Regions from separate parts of the Homo sapiens genome. Here region 2 is linked to region 1. Evidence: fine-mapped expression QTL. A gene starts in region 1. The other region holds a variant in brackets. All regions are shown on one strand. Distances are between the middles of the regions.

What was found. PIP is the estimated chance that this variant, and not a neighbour inherited with it, causes the effect.
Region 2: its variant is the best candidate, but not a certain one, in a credible set for the expression of KIF21B in whole blood (INTERVAL, PIP 0.78).

Annotation. Positions count from the first base shown.
Region 1 is chr1:201,020,672-201,026,179 of GRCh38, reverse strand. It overlaps KIF21B (kinesin family member 21B), which reads left to right and starts at 2,466. Exons shown (of 35, transcript NM_001252102.2): 1 at 2,466-2,837. The coding sequence starts at 2,797. LOC101929305 (a long non-coding RNA gene) reads right to left here and starts at 2,231. Exons shown (of 4, transcript NR_188464.1): 1 at 2,095-2,231; 2 at 561-676. RefSeq lists silencers at 1,741-1,898, 2,250-2,609, 3,010-3,059, 4,940-5,089 and enhancers at 3,664-4,271, 4,580-4,709.
Region 2 is chr1:200,985,162-200,990,161 of GRCh38, reverse strand. It overlaps KIF21B (kinesin family member 21B), which reads left to right. Exons shown (of 35, transcript NM_001252102.2): 20 at 1-24; 21 at 119-220; 22 at 1,231-1,396; 23 at 1,618-1,669; 24 at 1,809-1,866; 25 at 2,961-3,166; 26 at 3,244-3,318. Among named protein-coding and RNA genes, the nearest start is that of KIF21B, 36 kb to the left of the region's middle. The variant C/T (reference allele first, on the strand shown) is at 2,258.

The DNA of each region.
Region 1 (5,508 bases):
AAGGAAAGCTGGAAGGGGATAGAGGTGATGGGAGAGAGGGGGATGGGTAAAAACCAAAGAGAGGAAGCAGTGGCTGTGCTGAAGCTGGACAGAAACTGAAAAGGGCAAGGCTTGTCCTAAACTTCCTCTGACCCATCTAACCTAAATCTCCCCACGCTGTGGTTTAAGCCTTTTTCCCACCTTGGTTCTCCATCTAGCCTCTGAGCAGCAGAACCCAGGGGGGATGTCTGGATGCTGGCTGCCCTGCTGCTCCCTGGTGGCCCAGGAGGGAGCTACTTCTGAGTAGCCGAAGTCCTGAGGCTCTGACATTTAGGAGACCTGAGTTTCCCGCCCGTGTGTATCCCTGCTTCCCCTGACTCAACACCCAGTGACCTGGAGGGATGCAGAGAGGGTGGGCAGCAGCTCTGGAGGCATTTCCCAGCAGTAGAACTGTGAGTCAGAAGGGTCATCTACTGTCGGAAGTCAGAGGGGACCTCCTGCAGGCAGGAAACCAGAGTTGGGCCCCAGAGAAGTCCAGAGATGAGTTGGCGGGAAAGTAGCTCTTCAGAATGCAACATTACCATCCGGGAAGGCTGAACCTGGAGTCCGCTGTGCCTAGAGGAAAAGCCTGGGCCGGCCTAGCTCCCTTCTGCCTGGACATCATCATCCCTTCCACCTTGGTGGTCATCTGGGAAGCCTGGAATAAGATATACATGTCCAAATCTGGAGTCTGTTGCTTATATGCTGGAATTCATACATGTGAGGCTCAGTTTCCCCATCTGCAAAATTTAAAAAGAATAAAAAAGCCTAGCTTACAAGGTTATAGGGAAAAAATGAGAATATGTGCATAAAATACCTTGTGTAGGTGGTCCATATGTGTTAGTCTCCTCCCCACGAATTATTTTGGTTGGAAGATGGGGAGGAATGTTGCAGGATATGACTGCAACATTCTGCTAACCTCCTGGTCCAGGAGAGGTGATCCCCTGGCCCCAGGGAGAGCTTCCTCTAGATTCAAATGCTAATAAAAGGTCCAGGATACCACCAAGACCTCTTCTCCAGCCCCCATCATGGGGGCACTGCTGGCGGTGCTCCTCCTGTTTGCCATGGGGATGAAAAGGATGTGTTGATTGGCCCTTGAAATTTGCCCTTGAAATTATCTTTGGTTTTGATTTGACCTTAATAGGTCAAGCCAAACAGGGATCTGAGCTACTGCATGAAGCAGTTATTGGCGGGGAGGGGGGTGTGAGTGGAGGAGGGAAGGGGAGGAAGATGGTACCAACAGATGCATCCTCAGACCCCAGTCCACACCCTTGCCAAAATCTCTGACATGGTTTCATCATCTGAGGGTAATGTAAGAGGCCTGGAGTCAGACTCCCCTTCCTCCCCTCCCCCAGAGATCCCCATCCACATCTGGGGCTGCAGCTGGGTCCTCCTCTTGGGCCCTTTCCAGGGGAGGGAGCTGGGTGAAGTGAGGGCAGCTGGTGAGGGGCCCTGTGAATGGCCCCAATGTTGGGAGGCAGGGGGCAGGGAAGAGGCGTCTGGGCTCAGAGGGAGGGAGATGGACTGGGAAGGGAATTGTGACTTTGCAGCACTGGTCTCCTCCTCCATCCAGGCCCAGCGTTAAAGTCTCCATGGTCCTCCTTGTCCTTTATACCCATTCCTGCAGGCAGCTGCCCTCCTTCCCTTCCCCACCCACTTCACCGCCCAGCCTCTCTACCCAGGTGCTCGGAACTGAGGGCCCCCTTTGTTCCCTCCTTTCCCCCAGGGCAGCTCAGGCCTCCCACACTGACCCTCTGGCCCCACAGCCACAACAAGCAGAGTGTGAGCCAGGCCCAGTGGGGTCATCTGTGGGTCATAAAGGTCAATGGGACAGTCGTCTAGCAGTAGGGAGGGGCTAGTCTTGGGCTAGGAGCCTGGCCAGGAATCAACTAAAACATGAGCTTTAAGATGCTGCAGGGTGGAGGTGGGGGAAATTTTAGTTAGGGGCTAGCAAGAACTCCCTTCGAGAAGGGTTGGCGAATTTACTGGAATAAATGCAGAAGGGAAGCTTTCCTGGCTCTTTTGAACTATAAACCGTCAATCGCTGTGGGATCCCCGGGAGACCAGGGTTCTTACCATGCTTACCCACGAACTCGCTCTGTAACCTTCGGTAGTTCCCCTCTTTGAATCTCAGTTTCTTCATTTATGAAATGAGGGTCCCATTGAAGCCGAGGTTCTGCTACTCCAGGAGCCGAGGTTCTAACGTGGTCTGCGTCCAGCGCCCCCACCCCTACTCCCACCCCTACCCCCACCCCCACCCTTCAATCCCGCCCCCTACCCCCAGCCACCCCGTGGCCGCGAGCCAAGAGGTCCCTTTAAAGGCGCGAGTCCCGCCCCCACTGCTCATTAGGGCTTTCGATTGGCGGCTCCTGGGCGGGGCGGGGCCCGGCCTGGGCTCGGGGCTGGCTCGGGGCGGGCTCGGGGCCGGATCGGCCCCCGCCCCCTTTGTTCGCGCTGCGGCGGGAGGTGGCTGCCGGGTGGGAGGTGTGTGCGCGTGTGCCGCGCCGTAGGGAGCGGCGGGTCGCGCCGCCGGCTGTCAGCTAGCTCCGCGCCGCCGCCCGATGGCGCGAGGAGGCGCGCGGGCCCAGCCCCGGGGGGCCGGCCGCGGGTGAGCCCCTCGGCCTGCCGCCCGCGAGCATGTCACCTCCAGCCGCCGCCGCCGCAGCCTCCGCCAGCCGCGCCCGCGCCCCCGCCTCCCGCAGCCGCAGCCGCTGCCTCGGGCATTGGCCCCCAGACCCCCGCCTCTGATCCACGCCCAGACCCTAGCTCCAGAGGGCCATGGCCGGCCAGGGGGACTGCTGCGTCAAGGTGGCCGTCAGGTAGGGACCCGGGGCGGGGAAGGGGGCGCGCGGAGAAGCCTCGGGCTTTGTCTCGCGTGGGCTTTGGGCGGGGGGCGCGAGCACCGCTTGGGCTGGAGCCTGCACTCCCGGAGGAGGGGCCGGCGTGGGACGGGATGGAGGGCGCCGCGCGCTGGCCAGTCTGCCGCAGGGGAGCGGCGACCCCGCCGACTACTGGAAGGTGGCTTTGTTTGGGTGGTAATTTTGGGCCCCTCTTGGGAGCCCTTAATGATCAGAAAATCGAATAAACAAGGAAATCCGGTATTTCACACCCAGCTCTGGCCCAGGCCGGAGCGTCTGTGCGTTTCCTCTTCGCCTCCCCACGAGGCTGCTGTCTCATACGGGGATACCAGAGAGGGAAATTTCCCCTCATCCATGCGAGTCAGCTAGTTATGTGCTCTTGGTCCAGCTAGCAAAGGCAGCACACCCACCCTGGGAGCCAGATCTGCAGACAAAGATCGGGTGCGGGGACCAACGGAAAAGCTGGGATGATGCCTTGGCCTTCTGTGGGAAGTCAATGGCTTTGGGGGAGAATCCTACCAGTCCTGTCCCAAGAGGAGATGGGCCTAGGAAGGGAGGAAGAGGTGTATCTGAGGTGCTTCTCTCTGAGAGGGCAGGAGGGTGTGATGCAGATGCCCCATCCTCAGGCACTCAGATAAAATTGAGCAGGGGAGGGTTGCCTAGACTTATCTGGGGTTCCATTCTCAACAGCTCCGGGACTTGAGCCGGCAGAAATGAGACAGGGAGAGGACATGGCTGGGTGGGTTCTATTGGGAGGGGTACACAAAGGTGCAGGAGCAGGAAATGCTGTGAAATTGAGCCATCTGTGTTCTTTGTGCTGGGTGGAGATGCTTCACACCTCACCACTTCTCCCAGTTTTTGCTTTGGGTTTTTCTCTTTGAGAGGGGTGTCTTGGCGGCAGAGTGCCAATCTGGAGCTGCTCACCAAGGTAGGGATGTGGCAAGAACATCTATCTCTGCCCCAGCCCTGTATGATGGAGGGGGCGGGGGATTGTCCAGGTCTAGGGTAGGTCTCTCAGGTCTCTAGATCCCTTGGGTCATATGTGACCCAGATTCCAGGGGTCCTAGGAGGTTGCTCCTAGACAGAGTCAGAGATGGCAATGAAAAAGCTTTCTTCTTCCTGCCCCAGGGCAGATGCCCCTTGCCACGGCCACCTGGCCAGGCCTCTGCAGCCCAAAGAGGAGCTGACACTGATCAGTGCTTGGGTGAAGGGAAGGAGATTGAGGCACCCCCACCCATGCACCCTAGGCAGCACTCAAGAATCACTTGAGCACAGCTTTCCTGGCCCTGAGCAGCCAGAGACAAAGAGGAGCCCTGCAGGTGCCTGGTGGGCTGACTGGGGCGGGGCCAGGCTGCTGCTGGGGCTGACATTGCAGCAGGATCTTGTGGAGGTCGAGGGAGGGGTGCATGGCTGGGGGGTGGGAGTGAGAAATGTAAATATGGCATCTGCAGCAGATTGGGAGAGTCCGAGAACACCATAAAAGGGAAATGAAGCTCTGGCCCCCACCCATTGTGAATGAGGGCTGGGAAGGAAGGGGCTTGGGGGTGCCCTTTCCACAGGGGGTTTCCTTTAGATTCCATCTTGCTGGAGAGAGCTAAACAAAGGCCCCCTACCTCTGTTCAGGTCTCCAGGCTGGACTGGGGCTGAAAAGATGTGGGACTCCCACCCGGGGAGCCTCATGGGATTGGCACAGTGAGGAGAAGCTGATGTTCTCTTCCCACTGCCACCTCTAGAAGCTTCCCGGGACCCTTTCTGCAGAGAAGGGATCATGCCTGCCCTCTGCACCCAGTTCAGGACCATGTGTGTCATCTCTGGTTCCCAGTCAGATTGCCCTAAGTGGGGTCTGGGTGCCCCCACGCCTTGCCTTTCAGTTGCTGATCTGGATTGGGGGTGGGGCATTTGAGCATCAGAAGTCAGGCTTTCAGGGTCTCCGGGAAGGTAAGGGCCCCGCCCACTCCTCCCCTCCCACCCCAGCATGAGCGCCCAGCCCCGGCACACGCCAGACCTCAATGGGCAGCCGGCCGTGTACAGCAGACAATGCCTGGACAGAACCCAGTTTCTAATCAGAGAGCTTAGGACTGAGCTGGGGCTGGGCTGGGCTGGGAAGGAGAGCAGATGGTACCAGTGATGGGCTGTAGGGGGAGTTTTCCTTGTTTTTAGATCCTCTTCTACCCATCCTCCCCCGCAGCACCCCCAGAAATCACTTCTCTCACCTGAAAGACTGGGTGGTGGGCTGCACTACAGTAGACCATTTATGGGAAGGGCAAGGCTTGTCCAGGGCCTAGTCCAGCCCCAGGGCTCACTACCTCCTGCCAGGTTCAGCTGTCTTTCTGACTTTCTGGAAGTCCTTTCTTGAATCCAACTGAAGTGCCTTCTGAATTTCCATGAGAATAACATAGCGAGCCTGGAGTCCAGCTCTTCAGACAGGGAAGGCCAGGAATGAGACAGGTGTGGTCTGATTGTGTGTGTGTGTGTGTGTGTGTGTGTGTGTGTGTAGAGGAGAGAGGTCCCAGGGCTATTAGACTAGGTGAGAAGTGCCAGGCCTAAGGCTCTTGGCCCTGCAATCTGTTTGGGATGAAGAGATCGAAGCTGGCTGGCTGTGAAACGCTTCAGTGAAGGCCTGGGCTCCTGG
Region 2 (5,000 bases), 36 kb after region 1:
ATCGTGCAGCTGGAGGAGACCAAGGTATCCGCAGGGCTGGGCCTGCTGGGGCGGAGGCGGGAGAGATGGGTGGCAGGGGTAGCCCCAGGTGACGGGGCTCTCTGCCTCCCGGTCCTAGGAGGAGCTGGACTCCACAGACACATCCGTGGTCATCAGCTCCTGCTCCCTGGCTGAAGCCCGCCTCCTGCTAGACAACTTCCTCAAGGCATCCATTGACAAGGTAAGCTGGGAGCGTACATGGGCAGGGGGCTCTATGGGCACAGATGCCTCTGTGATATACCCTAGTGTGAAGCCCAGGGGCCTGGCGCCTCCTCACCTGCGTCACTCACAGGCTAGGACAAGCCGCCTAACCTCTGCACCTCCCATGCCACAGCTGTAAAGCTGAGAGGACGACCATACCAAGCTTGTAGCTTGTTGCATGGCTTTAACGAGATGCTGTGTGTAAGGGACGTGGCCTGGCACCTGGCACACAACAGGGCCTCTGTTAAAGTTGACTCTGGGTGTCTGGCCCAAGCCTATCCAAAGCAGTGCTAGGCTTGAGTCTGCTGGAGGTGGAGGGAGAAGTGTGTGTATGTGGGGGTAGGGGAACTACAGACAGACCACATTCCACCCAGGAGGGTTTACACCAGAACATCAGGTGTCCCTCGACATTTCTTGGGCTCCTCTTCTCTCTCCTTGACAGAGAGCTAAGCAGAGGATGTGCCTCCTTCCCTCCTGGGGCCTGTGGTCTCTGGGGACAGACCCTACATGGTGTGCATCTGTGTAACTCTGGAAGGAGGCAGGAGACTCTGCCGCCTGACCCCTCCTCTGGGCCCCACTGAGCTCCTCTCAGCTCCGCTTTGTGTCTGGGGACTTTATGAGTTTGCTAGGGCTGCCATAACCAAGTACCAGTCTGGGAGCCTCAAACAAGAGAGGGCAGGAAGTCCAAGGTCAAGGTGTTGGCAGGGCTGGTTTCTTCTGGGGCCTCTCTCCTTGGCTGTAGATGAATATGAGTTTTGGGGGGACATAACCTAGCCCATAATAGGGTATGTCCTAAGGTGACCTTCACTTAATGTGTGTATGTGGGAGCTAAGGGGGCTGGCGGTGCTCTCAGGTCTGTGCCAGGTACAAGGGTGATGTTGGGAGCTGGAAAGGAGCACTCCAAGGTGTCTTGAGGGGTGCAGGTTGTGTGATATGGGTGACTCCCAACCCCCAGGAGGGGTAACTCCAGGCTTTGTTCCCTGCCCCCAGGGGCTGCAAGTGGCACAAAAGGAAGCCCAGATCCGGCTGTTGGAGGGCCGACTGAGGCAGACGGATATGGCAGGCTCCTCCCAGAACCATCTGCTCCTGGACGCCCTGCGTGAGAAGGCTGAAGCTCACCCCGAGCTGCAGGCCCTCATCTACAATGTGCAGCAGGGTACGGGTAGGGGCGGTTGGAAGCTGCCAGCTCCTTGGCATTCCAGTGCTCTTGGGCTCAGACCCCCACAAGGCCCTCACTTCCCCAGAACCACCCCTAACCCCCACCAGGAGCCCTGGTCTGATTCCAGTGGGTGAGATATAGGAGGGAGACCATCATCCCTCCCCCGACACTTGGACAGGGCTTCTCAACCCCTTTCCCTCCCTCCCGCCCTCCCACAGAGAATGGCTACGCCAGCACAGATGAGGAGATCTCAGAGTTCTCTGAGGGCAGGTGAGTTTGCAAGCTGGGAGTGAGAGGCTGGCTCACAGCATGTACCTGGGGCTGGTGGGAGGAGTTGCCATAGGTCCCAGGGCTGAGCCTGAATTTGGGGGCTCCTCAGGATCCTGAACTCTCTCTGCTTCTTCCTCAGCTTCTCCCAGTCATTCACCATGAAAGGCTCCACCAGCCATGACGATTTCAAGTTCAAGGTGAGCCCCGCCGGAAGTCAGGCAGTGGGTGCAGCAGGGCCAGCCTCCACACAGCCTGTTCACCGCTTACTGTGGCTCTGCTCCACCCTCAGCCACAACACAATGTTGTCCCCAGCTGGGAGGGAGGTGCCAAGAAAATTTAGTCTGGAATTGGGGGTTGTCCAGATATGTAACCTGTTGCAGCCCATTCCTTCTGAGGTGGGTGGAAGGTGGGAGAAGTGGCTGGAGCCACCGCTAGCCTCTGTTGCCACCCTGCTAGCAACAGCACCATAACCAGGGGCCCTGCTTTCAAAAATATCCCCTTTCCCCCACCCATGATTCTGCCTCACACTCTAAGTCAAAACCTACCTCTAAATGTCTGGTTATCTTACGTGCACACAGTCAATTCAAC[C/T]ATATGGGAGTCAAAAATAAGGAAGTTTACCTAATAATGAGGGATCAGTTTCATTAGACTGAAGCAAGATGCAGGGTTTATTAAGGAGACAAGGAGGGAAAAAGCTTCAGACTGGGAATAGCAAATTATGCATAGTTTTGAGGTAAACTGATTAGCTGGTGACCAGCAAAGAAGTCAGGCTGGGCATTCTGTGTTTACATAGTCCAACTAAGGGCCGTGAAACCATTTCAGTTGCTCTGGATTCTCCAGAAACCATAAGAGTTTAGCTGTGGAGCACAGGTGATGTCTGTCTGGGTCCTTCCATCAGGTCCTCTACCTTAGGCCAAGACGGCATCATTTCTCTTGTTAGAATTTCCGGGCGGGCTGGGTGTGGTGGCTCATGCCTGTAATCCCAGCACTTTGGGAGTCTGAGGCAAGAGGATTTTGTGAGCCCAGGAGTTCAAGACCAGCCTGGACAACATGGCGAGACCCTATCTCTACAGAAAAAAAATTTTTAATTATCCGGCTATGGTGGCACGTGCCTGTAGTCTCAGCTGCTCGAGGAGGCTGAGGTGAGGGGATCGCATGAGCCTAGGAAGTTGAGGCTGCAGTGAGCCATGTTTGCACCACTGTCTCAAAAAAAAAAAAATAGAATTTCCCCTGGCTCCCCTTTATGTGCCATGCAATTTGGGCAAGTTGATCCACCCTGTTCTTCTTTTCCCAGAGCGAGCCCAAACTGTCTGCCCAAATGAAAGCTGTGTCGGCTGAGTGCCTGGGCCCCCCACTGGATATCTCCACCAAGAACATCACCAAGTCCCTGGCCTCCCTCGTTGAGATCAAAGAGGACGGAGTGGGCTTCTCTGTCCGAGACCCCTATTACCGGGACAGGGTCTCGCGCACCGTCAGTCTGCCTACCCGGGGCAGCACTTTGTAAGGATGGGAGCAGGAATGTGGGTTGGAGTGGAGGTGGAGTTGGGTCTGGGCCTCACTGGACTCTTCTGTTGTAGCCCTAGGCAATCTCGAGCCACAGAGACGTCCCCGCTGACGAGAAGGAAGTCCTACGACCGAGGGCAGCCCATTAGGTGAGATCATGTTCTAGAATCTGCTCCAGAGTCACCACCAGTCTAGTTCTTGGTTACATGAGTGGCTATGATGTTCTGCTCTGTTGATCATCTTGTACACAGTGTAACCTGGGCCAGCTTGACTGAGCCATTCAGGTTCACCCAGTGGTCCCTTCCCCACCCTGTCAGGTGTGGACTGAAGAAATGGGCCAGGCGTGATGGCTCACACCTGTAATCCCAGCACTTTGGGAGGCTGAGATGGCCAGATCACTTGAGCCCAGGAGTTTGAGACCAGCCTGGCCAATATGGTGAAACATCATCTCTACTAAAAATATAAAAATTAGCCAGGCATAGTGGCACATGCCTGTATTCCCAGCTACTCGGGAGGCTGAGGCATTAGAATGGTTCGAACCTGGGAGGCAGAGATTGCAGTGAGCTGAGATCGTGCCACTACGCTGCAGCCTGGGTAACAGAGAGAGACTCTGTCTCAAAAAAAAAAAAGAAAAAAAAAAGGAAATGTAATTTCTGTAACGCACCTTAAACTGCATAGCCGAGCCAGATGCTGGAAACTGTTTGCTGATGTGCACCCAACACAAGTGGCTTTGTAGTGGCTTGGATTAGTCATTGCACTGATGTGCTTCAGCCCCTTTTCATGACCATAGGTTCTGGGGAGCTTTCAGGTCTTTTTAAGGCCTTATGGTGTGAGAGAAGATTAGAAATTTAAAGGAAAGGCCGGGCGCCAGTAATCCTAGCACTTTGGGAGGCTGAGGCAGGTGGATTGTCTGAGCTCAGGAGTTCAAGACCAGCCTGGGCAATACAGTGAAACCCAGTCTCTACTGAAATACAAAAAAATTGGCTGGGCGTGGTGGTGTGCACCTGTAATCCCAGTTACTTGGGAGGCTGAGGCAGGAGAATTGCATGAACCTGGGAGGTGGAGATTGCAGTGGGCCGAGATCACGCCATTGCAGTCCAGCCTGGGTGACAGTGTGAGACTCACTGTCTCAGAAAGAAAAGAAAAGGAAAAAAAAAAAAAGGGAAGGGAAGGGAAAGGAAGGGAGGGGAGGGGAGGGGAGGGGAGGGGGAAGGGGAGGGGAGTGGGGGAGGGAAAAGGAAGGAAGGAAGGAAAAGAAAGAAGAAAGAAATTCAAAGGAAAAAAGAGATCAATGCAGAATGGCAGGGAAGTCCCCAGCTGGTCACCCACATGTGGGCCAGGCCCACAGAGCTTCTGTAGATCGAAGGATGACTTTCAGGGTTTTCTGGTCCATGCACTTAATTAAGAGGTTTGGTGGCACACAGCTAAATAGTGGGAAAGCAGGGGCTCAAGATGGCCTCTTGCCACCTGCCTTGCTGGGAGGCAGGAGGATTTTTTTCTTTTTAGAGATAGGGTCTTACTTCATCACCCAGGCTGGAGTATAGTGGCACAATCAGGGTTCACTGCAATCTCCACCTCCCAGGCTCAAGCGATCCTCCCACCTTAGACTCTCAAGTAGCTGGGACTACAGGCATGCACCACCATGCCCGCCTAATTTTTTTACTTTTTGTAGAGTTGAGGCCTCACCACGTTGCCCAGGCTGGTCTCAAACTCCTAAGTTCAAGCAATCCTCCCACCTCGGCCTTTCAATTTACTGAGATTACAGATGTGAGCCACTGCACCTGGCCACAAATACATTTTAATAAATAGGTGAATTCCCAAATATGGAATC